Regions from separate parts of the Homo sapiens genome. Here region 2 is linked to region 1. The links come from fine-mapping of genetic effects on gene expression. A gene starts in region 1. The other region holds a variant in brackets. All regions are shown on one strand. Distances are from middle to middle. Region 1 holds the start of FPGT-TNNI3K (FPGT-TNNI3K readthrough). Region 2 holds the start of TNNI3K (TNNI3 interacting kinase).

Evidence for each region. PIP is the estimated chance that this variant, and not a neighbour inherited with it, causes the effect.
Region 2: its variant is the best candidate, but not a certain one, in a credible set for the expression of FPGT-TNNI3K in skeletal muscle (GTEx, PIP 0.52).

What each region holds. Positions count from the first base shown.
Region 1 is chr1:74,195,136-74,203,485 of GRCh38, forward strand. FPGT-TNNI3K (FPGT-TNNI3K readthrough) reads left to right here and starts at 3,107. Exons shown (of 27, transcript NM_001112808.3): 1 at 3,107-3,225; 2 at 4,529-4,696; 3 at 6,183-6,275. The coding sequence starts at 3,144. LRRIQ3 (leucine rich repeats and IQ motif containing 3) reads right to left here and starts at 3,041. Exons shown (of 8, transcript NM_001105659.2): 1 at 2,861-3,041. FPGT (fucose-1-phosphate guanylyltransferase) reads left to right here and starts at 3,107. Exons shown (of 4, transcript NM_003838.5): 1 at 3,107-3,225; 2 at 4,529-4,696; 3 at 6,183-6,275. The coding sequence starts at 3,144. RefSeq lists a silencer at 2,945-3,044.
Region 2 is chr1:74,233,239-74,241,588 of GRCh38, forward strand. It overlaps FPGT-TNNI3K (FPGT-TNNI3K readthrough), which reads left to right. Exons shown (of 27, transcript NM_001112808.3): 4 at 2,864-2,972. TNNI3K (TNNI3 interacting kinase) reads left to right here and starts at 2,149. Exons shown (of 25, transcript NM_015978.3): 1 at 2,149-2,253; 2 at 2,864-2,972. The coding sequence starts at 2,214. The variant G/C (reference allele first, on the strand shown) is at 4,836.

The DNA.
Region 1 (8,350 bases):
TAAGAAATAAATTGAGAACAGGCTAGCTGAGTAAATAAATCGAAATAAAACAAACTGCAAAAAGACAATTTTTGCTTTCGTTGCATGTCAGGAAGGGTAACAGGAGGAAACAGTGGTTAAACAGAGCCATGAAGCACAAGGACTGGAAACAAGTACAGCCCTAGCTTGGCCTGACCACAGCATGCACTACGAGCTCCACAGTATATAATCCAGGACCCTATTCATTTGGCTTCAACTTCCTCATATAAAGAAGGGGGGAAAATTAAAACATTCTTCTCTATAATTTCCACACAACAGTCATAGTTATATGCCTGTAGTAATAAAAAAACAGTGTAACTGGCATTAACTGTAAATGGGTTGGAAGACATTTTAATGGGGGGATGAAAATGTTCTAAACCTGTACCTCAATAAAGTTGCTTTAAAAAATCTATCTCATTCTTCCTTATGGCAGCTCTTCAGATACTCTCTACTCTCCTCCTGGAAATAAAAAGCCCAAATGCCTCCACAGAATATAATTTTTCAATTTATTATAGTCTAGTATGTTCAACATCTTTTTAAAAATGTGGAATCCAAAACTAAACAGATTATTTCCTGTGTGTTTGATTTGTGCAGAATTAATGGGCTTACAGCTTGGCTGGATTGATATATTTTACTCTGGTAAAATGACATTCTGATAAATACCTGGAAAAACTCTGTGGCGAATTCTCTAGTATAATAATACTCTGGTAGCTTAAGATGTTAAACAGTCATATCACACTGTTTTATTATAGTGAATATGAACTTAAATAAAATCCCTAAACTTTTTTTGCCTCCAACAATCAACTGCCACGGAAATTTACTCCTACTCATATATATAGTATTTTTTAATTTTTTTTTTACTAAAAATTAATATTAATGAAAATTTGAGAAAAGAAAGAAAACAGAAGCCATAGCTGATAATATGGTATATTTATTTCCAGCAAATTTTGATTGCATGATATAGTCATATTGAGAAAAAATAATATCCAATTTCTATGGCCATCCTTCCCAGATCCAAGAAATACTCTAATATTCTGTATGATACCGTCCTAGATCCAATAAATACTCTATTTAATATTCTGTATGATAGAATCTAACACATCACTCTGTTTGTCTCCTCACAATTGTTACCACTGGATTTTTTATTTGGTTACTTCTTCCTTCTTTATTTCACCTTATTAGAATATACAGACCCCAAACATATAGGCTCTGCTGACCTTCACTCCCTTGGGACCTCACTTAGTTCCACAGTTAAAATTAATTCTATCTTCTTGCTGACAATTCCCAAAATTGTATCTCTAGCCCAGACCTCTCTCCTGAATTCTAGACTCGTATGTATAATGCATACAGACACATACACACACAAACTTCCATTACATATTCACTGCATACACATGTCTCTTTATTCCACATGTCCAAAATCAAATTCTGGACCCTATTACCCCAAAAACCTTCCTCAGTCGGAAACTTACCCATCTTAATTGATGGCCAATCCATCCCAAGGCAGTCATTTTGACTCCTCTTTTTCTCTTACAGTCCACACCCATTAATTCCATCAGCACATTTTATTGTTTTTGTCTTAAAAATATATCCAGAATCTGACCAACTTCTCACCATTCCCACTGCTACCATCCTGGTCAAGCCTTCACCAGCTCTCACCTGCAATATTGCAGTAACCTCCAAAGAAGTCTCCCTGCTTCTATCATTGCCTCATCCCCCATTATAATCTATTCTCCTATCTCCGAGTGATCTCTTTAAACATAAGCCAAGTCACTTCAAAACCCTGCAATGGCTTTGTTTCCCTCAAGAGTAAAAACCAAAATTCTTCCTATGGCCCTTTGTTCTCTCTCTGACCTTCTCTCGCTACTTTCTCCTTTGGTTACTTTCACTCAAGTCTCTGTATTTTCTAAATGTTCTTCAATAAGATACTGTTTTTTTAATTAATGAAGTTTTAAATGTAAAACTATGAAAGAGTAATCTAATCTGCCATTTTATCCAAATGTTTCCACTATTAGAACACGATTGTATAACAAGTCTGAGAAGAAAAACTAAGTAAATTTATGACAAGAGTTTATGGTGCCCTGAATGTCTACGTACCTAATGAAGACGTTGATACAGAGAAATCGTCTCAAAAAATCAAACGGTATGGTGAAATACCACAAGTTCTGGGTTTGGGATTGAAATATATTTCTTAAATCTTTTATTACTTACTAATTGTGATACCTTGACTAACTCACTATTCTCTGATTCAGTTTTCTTCTGTGTAAAGATGAAGTGGTCTGTAAAACCAAGAAACCTCGTGTTCTATAACAGGAACACCTTTATATAGCTACCCAAAAAAACACCTAAAAAGGCTGACTTATTCCTAAGAGTGTTATTGAACATTCTAGATTAATCTGCATATACAAAAGAATGCCAGAGAAGAAACCAAAATACCAAAAATATTTGGAGCCTGGTTGCGGACTGAATTTTATACAACTTTCAAAGACACTATTTGAGAGGCTGTCGTGTGTAGCCTACTAAGAAAAAACAGAGGGGTGGGGTGGCTCACTCTCTAGGAACCACAAACTTAAGGTTCCTAGAAAGAGCAGAGATTTTAAATATTCAGACTGTGTATGTATCATGACCCAGGGTTGGGGGCAGATGGCCCGGGGTGGCGGGGGAAAGGAGAGATGGCGGAGATCTTCTATCAGGCTATCCTGGGGAACTGCTCCAGGCTGAAACAAACCACCAGTTAGGACGAACCGCCTTTGATGTGAAAGCTGGGAAGCTAGAATGTAGTTTCGCCTTATCCTTAGCGGGTCGGTTCTAACAATTTTGTCACCCAAACTGAACCACTCACCGGGTCAACTGGGCTGCAAGCCCTTATGAGTTGGAGACAAGTGGCCCAGCCCCAACACAGTCAGACAAATCGCTGGGCGGCCATCTGCTCCTGAGACCGTTGCTAGAGAAACAAGACAACATCCAAGTTCTCCACATCATGGTTTTCCGGGCGCCAGCCAAGGCGCTCCGGGGGCGTGGTTACGTGGGCGACGCACGGAGGGGGCGGGTCAGAAACAACCGGGCGGAGGCGCACCCCAGGGCGCATGCGTGCTGTGCGGCGCGGTCTCAGGGAAGGTGGGGCTATGGCAGCTGCTAGGGACCCTCCGGAAGTATCGCTGCGAGAAGCCACCCAGCGAAAATTGCGGAGGTTTTCCGAGCTAAGAGGTACCAGAGAAGGCACCGGAGTTCTCCTGGGCAATGCAGAGGGAGGGTGCTTTTACGTGCCAGGAGGTTTGCTGGACTGTCACTTCCCGTTTACTTCTCATCTGTAGGCCTATGACGCTCCCCAGGAGTAGCTAGCTAATAATCCTTTTGAGTTTTTTATTCTTTTCACTGTCCCTGCTTGACATGCTTGTTGCTTACTTTATTCTTAGTAGTATAGATATTAAAAATGAGGGCGGAGGAAGAAGAAGAAAATCTTACTAGTGAAGTTATGCATTGATTAGCTCATTAATAAAAGTTGCTTTAAATAAATCTAAAAGATACGAAGCACAGTATTTTGAACTTTATGAGTAGATGCCAGCCCCCTATCTACTTCACGCTTTACATTACGTTCATCTACTTCTGTAATGTAACCGTTTGTTGAGGGAGTAACAGAACATGGAGGAATTATGGATTAAAAATTAAAAGGAAGAAATTTGTTATCAAAAAATTGGCTATGACACTTAATCCCTGTACACCTGTCTAATAAAAGTGATTATATTTGTGTTGCAGTGACTGCTTAAAAAATACTGGGACTAATTCTTGGATAACAGTAAAACTTTCAGGACTATTAGATTCTAGCTGACAAGTTCTGTTTGTTAACTAATTAAAATGCTAAATCATTTTGTTTATCAATAAAGAGATTCCAACTGTCTACTAAAAGTGCACACTGTCTTTTAAAGATGTCATCAGAGAGTTGGGACCTTCTGTTATCCAGAATTTTATGTTATATTCTAACAGCCTATGTAAGTTTGCATGGTTCATCTTAAAGTAATAGAAAATAAAGTACCCACATTTATAAACAGCAACATTGAGGGAAGGGATCTTTGGGTTGTGTCTTTCTTAGTCACCTAACACCAAGTGTCCGTGATACATAAGAATTGATTTGCAAAGCTGGAGATTTGTTTATGTTTATCTCCTCTTCTTATTGAAGAATTGAGGCAATAGTCTTTGGCAAGTTAAAAGTCGCTCTCTTAATCAAGAAACATTATGTCATTCAGAATTTATAATTAAATTGGATTGCAAACCATAAAAGGAGGGAGTGATCTAAAAGAAAAAAAAGGAACTTGTGAACAGTCTTCATTATAACTATTTTGAATCGTATTAATGCACCACTAATTATTCCCTAACTTTCAAAAGCCAAAGATACATTTTGGAAGATGATAATGGATATTACCTTCTTTATCATCTTTCTCAATAGGCAAACCTGTGGCAACTAGAAAATTCTGATAATTTTTGTTTTCATTTCCTTGCTTTTTCCAAATAGGCAAACTTGTAGCACGTGGAGAATTCTGGGACATAGTTGCAATAACAGCGGCTGATGAAAAACAGGAACTTGCTTACAACCAACAGCTGTCAGAAAAGCTGAAAAGAAAGGAGTTACCCCTTGGAGTTCAATATCACGTTTTTGTGGATCCTGCTGGAGCCAAAATTGGTACGCGCTTTATGGTCAGTTTTATAATATAGGTCCTAAGCAGAATAATCATTGAAGAAAAGGTTTCTGTGACTTACAGTGTATAAGCTGCATATCTCTACCCACAGCTTTACAAACTTTAAAATTTGAACATAAATTGACTTTTTTTAGAAAGATAAAAGGAATAGCAACTGTTCTTACCCATTATGACTTACCTTGAAAAACTTCCAGAATGTTACTTAAAAGAAAATTTTATTAGTTTTAATGAAATTCACACTATTCAGATAGGAATACTCCTTTGGACCTTATCAGTAGAACCCTTGAGGTCCTCTCCACTCCAGAGTTCCTCCAGCAATTTACATGAAGAAAGCAATTAGTGGGAAAAAATACTCTTGACCTCTTAGGGACATAATGCAGAATGCAAAAGAACACTGTCACATGGCTTAAATATAATACATATATTTGAAAACCCTAGTTTAGGTCAACTTTGCCCTTTGACCGTCCATTGCAAATAGAAATAAATGCTGTTTTTCTGAATGCTCTTTTCTATGTGATACTTAAAGTTGAAGCCCCCTGATACCAGAGATAAGATATCTGTATATGACATTAATATGACATTAGCATTATTCTAATTAGCCAACATTATTTTAATCCTTACAACTATGAGGTCAGTACTGTTATTATTTCTTTTTTTTTTTTTTTTTTTTTTTTTGAGAAGGAGTCTTGCTCTGTTGCCCAGGCTGGAGTGCAGTGGTGCGATCTTAGCTCACTCCAAGCTCCGCCTCCCAGGTTCAGGCCATTCTCCTGCCTCAGCCTCCCGAGTAGCTGGGACTACAGGTGACTGCCACCAGCCTGGCTAATTTTGTTTTTGTATTTTTTAGTAGAGACGGGGTTTCACCATGTTAGCCAGGACGGTCTGTATCTCCTGACCTCGTGATCCACCTGCCTCGGCCTCCCAAAGTGCTGGGATTACAGGCGTGATATTATTTCCATAGATGAGAATCTGAGGTACTCAAGAGTTAAGTAACTGGCCCAAGATAACTAGTGTGGTAGTTATATTTAAGATTTTTTTTTGGGAATCCAAGTTCTAAAAATCTTTTTTCGAAAGGAACTCTAACTTGTGTTTTTGATTGTGTCATTTGGGAGAATTATTTAAATGGGCTTTGTGATTTGTAACTCTGTATGAATGTTTATATTTATCAGTCTTCTAGTGTTACAGATTGTGTAATTGATTCTTCTTTCTTATAATTACTATTTTGGGGAGAATATTACCTCATCATTTATTACTGAGGGTTGTTGTCTGGGTTTCATTGCTAATTTATTGATTGGTTGTTTGCTATGAGATGTTTTTAATTTTGTTCTATTGCCAATACCTTTGATGTCCATCTATTTACTTATTCCTGAAAGGCAAATCCTTAAGGTTATATAACACCTAAATTTACTGTCATGACAAAGTTTTAGTAGGTTTCTATTAAATAAATTGTGCTTTTTTAACTTTGTTTTTAAGGAAATGGAGGATCAACACTTTGTGCCCTTCAATGTTTGGAAAAGCTATATGGAGATAAATGGAATTCTTTTACCATCTTATTAATTCACTCTGGTAATGTTATACTTTACTAATTTACATTTTCTTTTTAGTCTTCCACCTTTAATACTTTAGAGACTTTTTTCTTTCTTGCAAACACTTTCCTTCTTTTTTAAAAGAATCTTTGAAGTTATTCTGCTTTGAAAACAAATATTTTATGATTTTCATGACTTTTTTTAGGTTGTAAGTAGTATAGTGATTTTCACAAATTTTACTCGTAAAATTGTAGATCACGTATATCGTCAGTCTTTTATGAATATTGTTTTGTTTTGGGTATGTATATAGAAAATTATTTTCCTAAGACAACTCATTCAAATATGAATAGTTCTCGGGAATACTTTAATGGGGATTTTTCTTTTAATTTTAATTTGTATTTTAAGTTCCAGGGTCCATGTGCAGGTTTGTTACATAGGTAAACGTGTGCCATGGTTGGTTGCTGCACCTGTCAACCCATCACCTAGGTATTAAGCCAGCATGCATTAGCTATTTTTCCTAACACTCTTTCTCCCTTAATGGGGATTCTTGCTTTGAGGGAAGGGTGGTTTAACACTGTCATTACTAGACTTTTGCCAGTACTTTTTATCTTGCATTTTTGTGTGATTATTGATAGCCAGAGGCCACAATGCTTAAAAATAAAAGGAAAATGTGACAAGATACAGAGTGGACAAGTAAATATATAAAAGAGAAATCACACACACAAAATAAGACATTTTAAAACAGAAAAGTAGGAAGGACATGGTCTCAGAATGAAGAATAGCTTTTTAAATTGAATACATTTAGTTGTGTGAAAATTTTGGTTACATGAAAACCTTTGTTGTTTTTCTATGTATGTTAAGGGGCTAATGAAAACTGTCATGAACTGACACCAGTCCAGGGACAGGTATTTTAGAATTATTCATCTACATGGCTTCCAAGGCACTTTTTCATTCTTATGATTTACATACAAAACAATGATTCTTTGTAAAGATGATGTCAAAGTAAAGCATCCAAGTTCTGGTTTGAAGCCTAAAAATGTGTAAAACAATCTAATTTACAATTTTATTTAAGAAAATAATTATTATCAGTTTAGTAAAAATTAAATTAGATACCAGGAAATGCATAGTTAGATAATTTTTTTATTTTTATTTTTTGGAAATAGATAATTCTTAGTGCTAAACTTGACTATTGGCTGCTCTTTGAAAAAAGAAAAAAACAGAAACTTATTAGCTCTCTTTTGTTGAACAATGTACTGTGTGCTGCCAAGTGCTTTACAGGTATTATTGATCTTCAGTAATAAATTAACCTTAGCTTACTATAACATTTTTACTTTATAAACTTCTTAATTTTTTTGACTCTCTTGTAATAACATTCAGCTTAAAACACAAACACTGTACAGCTGTACAAAAATATTTTCTTTATATTGTTAGGGTTTATTTTGTTGTTTTTATTTTTACTTTTTAAATATTTTGGTTAGAAATGAAGACACAAACATATTAGCTTAGGCCTACACTGGGTCAGGATCATCAGTATCACTACCTCTATAGTCCTACTAAAGTTCAGGAGCTGTCATCTCCTATGATAACAATGCTGCCTTCTGAAAGACCTCCTGAAGGACCTGCCTGAGGCCATTTTATGCTTAACTTTTTTTTGTATGTATCATATGAATTTATTCTAAAATAACAATGAAAAGTATAGTATAGTAAATACATAAACCAGTAAAATAGTCATTTATTACCAATTATTATATACTATATACATAATTGTATGTTCTGTAGTTTAGTAAACTGGCAGCACAGCAGGTTTGTTTATACCAGCATCACCACTTGAGTGGTGCATCGTGCTAGGACTTTACAATGGCTCCAACATCACTAGGTGATAGGAATTTTTCAGTTCCATTATGATCTTATGGGACAACCTATGTATATGCTGTCCATAATTGAGCGAAATGTTGTAAAGAAGCAAGTATTTTAGCATTAGTATATTAGTTTTCTATAACTTTTATTTTCTGTGAAGTAGATTTTTTTTTTTTTTTGAGATGGAGTCTGGCTCTGTCGCCCAGGCTGGAGTGCAGTGGCACGATCTCCGCTCACTGCTGCAAGCTTCGCCTCCCG
Region 2 (8,350 bases), 38 kb after region 1:
GCTTAGAGATAAATATTGTTTCTTTCAAACCAGGAAACTGTTATAGTTCAATAGTGGTTAATATTTTGGGTAATATTTTGAGTAATTTTCTGCATTTCTTATATTGCTATCGTTTCATTTTATTTCCAGCAAAATGTATTGCATTAGAATGTGGGAGAATTCAACTGAGTTGCTGATTGGATTTTCAAACTCATCGCAGAAATCACACCTTTGAAAGCCAAAGCTTTCATTTGTAAAACCTAGGCTTTTTAAGAGAATAAAAGTATTCTTGAAAATCAAAAGGAAAAATTCTAAAAAGCAGTACATCAGACTTGTGTCCCAAGCAGGAAATTAGAAACACAGTGGAAGATGATGTAAGAGCTAATTTTTCCTCCATATGTGGAAAACATACATGTACACACACACACACGGATGGAAGATCCGAGATATTAGAAATAAGAAAAGAGATCAAGAAAAATATATTTAGTTGTCCTCTAGAAGGCTCCCATCTTTGTCCTTCTGGATTCAGAGTATAGAAACCATGATTATTTTAAGAAACTCTGAGAGGAGAAAGAGCTGGTGCATTATTTCCTAAAGTGTAGCCCTGGGAGATTGCAAGTCTTTTAAAGAAAGCTATCCAGTATGGTCTTCAAGATAAGGAAGAAGAGATTAAGCAGGAAGGTCCCTGGACAAAACAAAGACTTTCCAAACTGAGAAAATGGGGGTCACAGAAGTGCTTAGAGAAAGCTGGTGGAACTGAAGATGTCTGGTTTTCAAACAAGGAGAATGTAGAGTGTATGGACCAAGGTAACCAGATGCCACTGCAGTATAGCAAGTATCAACAGCTGTGGTAGGCATGTACTGATAAGAAGGGAAAAGGAGAATATGTCCAGATGAGGACAAAAAGTGTCTATGAAGCCAGACACCTGATGCGCCAACTATATCTCATCAGTCTGGAAGCCTTACCTCTGAAACTTCTATTACTTTTGCTGAGCAAAAATATATGGTGAGTCCTAACTTTGTCTAATCATTTATTCAAAAAGAGAGTTGTTTGAACATTTAACTATAGAAAATATGAAATCTGTATCTGTTAAGTTAAAGCTATATCCTCTGGATGTGAATCTGAAGATTAAAATTTATACTTTCTAGGTATAAGAAGATTATCTGAAATAAATATATAGTGAAAAATTTAATGTTTTCTTTCTGGGTTTCCCATTTATTCTCCATCATAGACTGGGTTCTTTATATCAGTAGAAATAGGCATACAATATGCATACAAAGAGAAATGTCCTAATAAAGTAAATGGAAGGTGCATGAAAGAGAAATTCTGGAAGACAAATCAATAATATCTAGCTTGGATATTAGAGTCACATGGTCAGAACTGATTCCAGACTTCCAACTTACTAGTAACTTTGTGTTTTCTCATCCATAATTTGTGAATAATATCTACCTAGCAGCACTGTATGTATGAGATTAAATAATGAGATATATGTAAAGCATGTAAACTAGGGTCTGACACATAGCAAATGCTCAATTTTCTTATTCTTAATCTTACTGTTCTTGTCATTTATTATTTTACGAATTGCTATTTGTAGAACTTAATGTTTTACATTCTGATCTATGATTCTTATGGTCGGAATAATCCACAATAGTATAAATCTTGGTCTATGTTGAGAATTTCTTCATACAAACATAATTATGTAGCTCTTATACAGGCCAAACCTGCATTCATTTCTATTAGTTATATGCTAGAGGTAATGAATTTTTATTATTTATTTATGTATGTAGACACATTCTATTACCACTCTTTACCAACTGCCATTATTTTGGCTTAGGAGAAAATGATCTTGAAAACAGGTCTATGTAGTTTTAACAGCTCTTTTGTGAACTTCGGATGTAACTGAATCATTTTCTAGATTTATCTGTTAAATAAATGGTCCATGAAAGTATGTATGGGTAGATAATTGATGGAAGCAAATAATCCTATTGAAACATTTGCTATTTATTTTTGATACAGTTCTTTTAAACAGACTGATTAGTTCCCTTTATGATTTCACCCTCGAAAGCACACACGATTTTGTTCTTTATCATTGTTGCATGACATTCCATTTGGCAGTTGGGCTTATTTTTAGCCAGACTATCAAAGTATTTTTCAACTGGACTGTCACTGCACTTGAACTTGGAATCTTATAACTTGAAGAACTGCCCTGGAGAAAGGAAGAAACTTATAATAAATGGGAAATTATAAATCTAGACCAACCCAAACTTGTACTGGTAATTATTCTAATTATTCTTATTTCCTTAAGTGTAATATGGTTCAATTATAGTTACTGATAACTAACAACTCATTGGAATATGTGTTAATTTGTATACGGAAGATAAGGCAGCATGTTTTGTGAAAGTCTTTGAAAAACTATCTGAACTCAAATTATTTTTTTCTGAAGATCTTTATAGGAAACAAGAAATTTCTTACAAAAATATTATTTTAGTTCCTTGGTATAATGTTACAGAAAAAAATTTGGAATATTGCTGAATGTAGGGATTTTAGAATTATATCTTAAGTATCTAGTATTTAAAAACTAAAAACCGTCTTGCAACTAGAGATTGCTATAATTAAAATGCAATAAAATCAAATGAAATAAGTCAAATATATTTTTCTATGTAAATATATTATCCAATATCGAATGGGTTCTTCATTACTACAATTCAATATGATTGCATTTTAAATATAAACATCTGCATTTTAAACACACAATCAGTAATTTAAATTAAGTATTGTAGAATCTAGAATAAAAAACAGTTTTGATTACTTGTATGTTATGATCTGTGTCTACATTTTGCAAAACACAACTATGAATCAATCTCATTTGTTCTTCTTTACTAGATGAATGGAAGAAAAAAGTCAGTGAATCATATGTTATCACAATAGAAAGATTAGAAGATGACCTGCAGATCAAGGAAAAAGAACTGACAGAACTAAGGAATATATTTGGGTAAAGTTGTAAGAGTCATTATTTCTTTGTATAAGTGTCTTCAGTATTCACCTTATTTTTTAAAGTATCTGTATATTTTTTAAACCCGTAGAACCTCAGACATAAGCAGTCATGTTCTAAGCCTTAGGATGTCAGATTATCTCTCTTTGACCACTCATATAGCTCTCAAAATGCAAACATAACATCTCACCTCCTTAAAATATAAATTGTAATCTGCCATCATTAAAGTTTAAAAATAAAAACCTAAAGGCTAGCCTTTGAATGCAAGCTATTGTTGATCTCAGTAATCTTCTCAGGAATTAGATCATTCTTGTAAACCATGCCGGCAATGAAAAGCAAGATTTTTCTTCCCACATAGTGGTCGCATATTGGCCACATTGTTCTCTTTGAACTATGACGGTAAGTCCAATTTTAACAAACCCTCTGGTCTCTTGACATTGAAAGGCTGTCCCTTAATGGAACTGAGTATCATTCTGCCCCTGAACAATCATATAACAACATATAATATTGCCTTCAGGATTTCAGTAGATTTTGTTCCATGATAACAAGAGAAAAATAATCTAAGTGTCACAACCTTGGAAGACACAAAATGTTCAGAAAAGAGGAGCAAGACCCTTATATACACAAAAAGCCTTCTGGTTAAATTGAATCTGACATTGAGAAACTAGATGCCCATTAGAGGGTCAAGAAAGTTACCTGCCTGACTAAGGAAAAGTTCCATATAGGCCAATTAGCCATGTTCATTTATAGCTGTGTTATGTAATGCACTCATGGCAAAGAACTCCCTCTATTTTACTTAGAAAACAAGTGTAAAGCAATGACCAAATGACACATCTTTAAAATAAAATTTTAGATATAGTAAACATATAAATATCACATAATTGGCAAATAAAATCACCCATGTATAATATAGTTTATATGAAATTCGTCAATGGATGTAACAAGGCTTTCACAAGTGTTCAACTTATGGTTCAAAAAGTAGTTGGTTCTCTTTATAGTTTGGCCCAGGATGATGAACTCAACACTGACACTTGTGATGAGATACCACTGATCTGACTTTTGCAAGTAGTATCACATGTTGAGATATGGAACTACATTTGAAATTCCTGTAGAAATATGACTGGCATGTTAGTACAGTAGAATTATAAATATGTATTTGTTTTGTTGGAAAAGTATGAATATAGAAATTAATCATAAACATCTAGCTCTTATTGACTTAAATAAATATGCTAAATGAAATATGATTACATTGAAGAGATTTTCCTCAACTTTTAAAGGTCAAAGCCTCAGTTATTTAGTATTATTTTTTAATTTAGAAAGTATTGAGCACATAGGTGAAGGCTAGCTTAAACTAGATGTATCCAAACCTGAATATTAGGATTAACAATGGATTTAAAATGTAGGTTCTTTCTGATACCACATCGACAACTACAAGCTGTTTTGACAACTGCTATAATGGACTTTTCCTGTGTTTCTACTAAATGCAACAAATGTGACCTTCTTTTTTCTGATTAGCATTGGGGGTGAGATGCAGGAATCTGTGTCAGGGAGCTTACAGTCCAGAATTTGTTGAGTGCCAGCTCGTATTCAAGTGTTGTTCTGGATACATCAAATACAAGACATTATTTAATCTATAGTCATATGTAGATTGTTGTCATTTCATGTGTGCCGAATAATATTAACTCCGGTGGATGATAAACTAAGGATTAGAGACAAGGCAGTGGGAGTTGTCAAGTCACATGGTCAGTAAATTCTGGAATGTGATTTGTGTCAAGGTCTGCCTGACTCCATAGATAGCGCTCTTCCTACCATACCCTGCTTACAAAAACAAGATTTAGGTCCTGATTTATTCATTGATTTTTG[G/C]AATCATTGTAGATAAAAAGCATAGTTAAGTAAAGGTGTGTAGGCAAGAATGAATGAGTACCATAGAAAGTTTAGGAAAAGTGAGAAAAAATAATGTCTTCACCATATTATCTGACTTGAGTAAGAAAGCTATGTGAATCAATGTAAGAATTTTGGAGTCATACAAACATGGTTTTAAATACAGCTTCTTCTATTTATAAGCTGTATATCCATGGATATGTTTTTTAATCTCCTTAATCCTCATTTTCATCTATAAAATGAGGTGAATAATAATCACCTCACAGGATATTTTCAAAATGAGGTAAATTAAATACTAAGTACAGGGCCCAACCCATAGTAAGCATTGAGTAGTTGGAAATTTCTATTATCATGATTGATTGGATAAATAAGGACAGTTTGAAGGATAGAAGACTTATCATAAAGTGAGAGTAACAAATAGCTTATTAAAAGTTAGAAAGAGTGAAAGTTTTTATGAAGAGGATGATTTCAAAATTAAAAATGTAAAGTATTAGCACAATTTAGGAAGATGCCGAAATCTGAAATATAGCTTTTAATGATTTTGATTGAAAGGGATTTGAAGAATTTTGAGACTAGAGTATTAGAAGGCTAATCAAAATGGCTATCAAATTTACTGAGGATAATGGTGAGACATTTTTGGAGAGAAAGACCAATAGCCTGATGCTGATGACATTAAAGAAGCTACAGAATGTGATGATAAGGAAGCTGAGGAGAGGATTATCCAGTCTAGAATGATGTTTCTGCAAGAACTAGGGGCCTCTTATGTTAATGGAGATGGAGACTGTAGTACTTGCTAAAATTTTCGATTCCATGACTCCACCCTTTATCATGTGAATCAGAATCTCTGGAGATGTCTTCCAATAACCTGAATGTTTAACAAGCTCCCCAGATAAAACTATGCATAATAAAAATGATACTTCTAAAGTTTGAAAACTATACTTCTAGAAAGATATCCAAATTGCACTGAGAACTCTTTGCCTGAGGTGATATTAGTGAAGGGATGAGGAATATGGGAACAGAAAGTAAGCAACTGGTGTGGTCTAAAGAGAGTCAAGAGAATCAAAAACAAGCAAGCAAAAACAGAATAATCTGCTTTTGTCTGATTTCGTCAAGGTAGAGAGCATAATCTGGGAGAAAAAAGTGAATTGCTTCCAGGGCAGAGTTCTAAGGATTTTCTTTTCTTTGGAATAAAATGATGGATGAAAGAAAGAAAAGAATAGTGTGCTGAGAATGTAAATTGTCTTACTCACTCATTCACAAAATTTTAAAGGTAGTTGGGAAGATCAAACCTAACACTGTATGAAATGACATTTAAATGAGTATCTAGAGCATTATAGGTGCTAAATAAATGTTAGAATCTCATTACTCACCCTTATTCATTTGTCTTATAAAGAGCATTCCTGTGATAAACAATTATGTTATGTTGCCTGACATCAGCCTTTCTCTAAACATTTAGATAGCAAGGAGACTGTATACAATGCCCAAAAAGGAACATTTAAACTAGCATGAAACGTAAAGGATCACTGATGTAAACAGTTTTTCATTTGCTAACCAATTTCTTTATGGCATTCCCGGTAGATGCTAATTTCATTCATTATAAGAGATTTTTCACCACATAATACACCATTGCTCTATCAGCTCGAATACACAATCTTCCTGGCATAGCTTTTACCCACAACATAATAAACAGCAATATAGTGCTAAATGTAAGACAGAAAGAGCTAAATAGTTATCCTGCTTATGCCAATTTATAGCAGCTTTGGAATGGGAGCTTGATGTGGGAGAGAGGGGAAATGGAAATGGAATGTTCTTTCATCTTCTGCTATAAAGTTGCATTCACTCATAACTTTGGACATTTGTTTAGGTAATGGATTGGTGACAGGAAGAAATGAAGAAAAAGAGAAGGCAGGAGGAGAAAGAAAGACAGAAAGGGCACCTTAGAGTACCATTGTCTGATTATATCCTCCTCTGTGCTGCCTCTAATCTTTATCAACATAACAGCACTTACTACATGGTGTTGTTTTTATCCATTTATAGGTCTATCTCCCCACTAGTATATGTGTTCATTAAAGGCAGCTTTTTTTCTTATTTAGCCTTATTTATATTTGTACTTATTTGTAAAACAAACTAATAACTTAGGGCTTACCATATGCCAGAAATGCTTCTACGTATCTTTTTGTGCATCAGCTTATATAATCCTAATGGTGTATATGTAAAGTGCTTTAGCACAGTGTCTGGCACATGGCAAACCCTCAAAAATGTTAGTTAACACTTAATCATTATTGTTTATGTTAACAACCCTCTGAAGTAAGTGTTGCAATTGCCATGTTATACCTGGAGAAAATGAGGCTAATCAAATTAAACTGGCTTGAACTAGATTAAACAATTTGTATGATTTACCTAGGATTGCATCCATCTTTATTTGATTTCAAAATGTATCATATTCATAATCTTGGTTATGAATATTATACAACCTTTTTGAAAAAACTATGGAAGTGATGGCTCTCCACATGTGACTTCAAATGTTTTCAATTAAATTATTTTGTTTCAATAGTTTTTATCATAATAAATTTTAAGACTATGTTTTGCTAATTTCATTGTCAAGCCAAATTTGTATCTGCTTAATCTATAATATGAAATTTAAAACCATGAGAATACTCCAGAAAAGTTATAATTTTTCTTTTTCTTTTTCTTTTTTTTTTTATTATACTTTAAGTTTTAGGGTACATGTGCACAACATGCAGGTTAGTTACATATGTATACATGTGCCATGTTGGTGTGCTGCACCCATTAACTCGTCATTTAACATTAGGTATATCTCCTAATGCTATCCCTCCCCCTCCCCACACCCCACAACAGGCCCCCGTGTGTGATGTTCCCCTTCCTGTGTCCATGTACTCAATTCCCACCTGTGAGTGAGGACATGCGGTGTTTGGTTTTTTGTCCTTGCAATAGTTTGCTGAGAATGATGGTTTCCAGCTTCAACCATGTCCCTACAAAGGACATGAAGTCATCATTTTTTATGGCTGCATAGTATTCCATGGTGTATATGTGCCACATTTTCTTAATCCAGTCTATCATTGTTGGACATTTGGGTTGGTGCTTAGTTCCAAGTCTTTGCTATTGTGAATAGTGCTGCAATAAACATACATGTGCATGTGACTTTATAGCAGCATGTTTTATAATCCTTTGGGTATATACCCAGTAATGGGATGGCTGAGTCAAATGGTATTTCTAGTTCTAGATCCCTGAGGAATCATCACACTGACTTCCACAATGGTTGAACTAGTTTACAGTCCCACCAATGGTGTAAAAGTGTTCCTATTTCTTCACATCCTCTCCAGCACCTGTTGTTTCCTGACTTTTTAATGACTGCCATTCTAACTGGTGTGAGATGGTATCTCATTGTGGTTTTGATTTGCATTTCTCTGATGGCCAGTGATGATGAGCATTTTTTCATGTGTCTTTTGGCTGCATAAATGTCTTCTTTTGAGAAG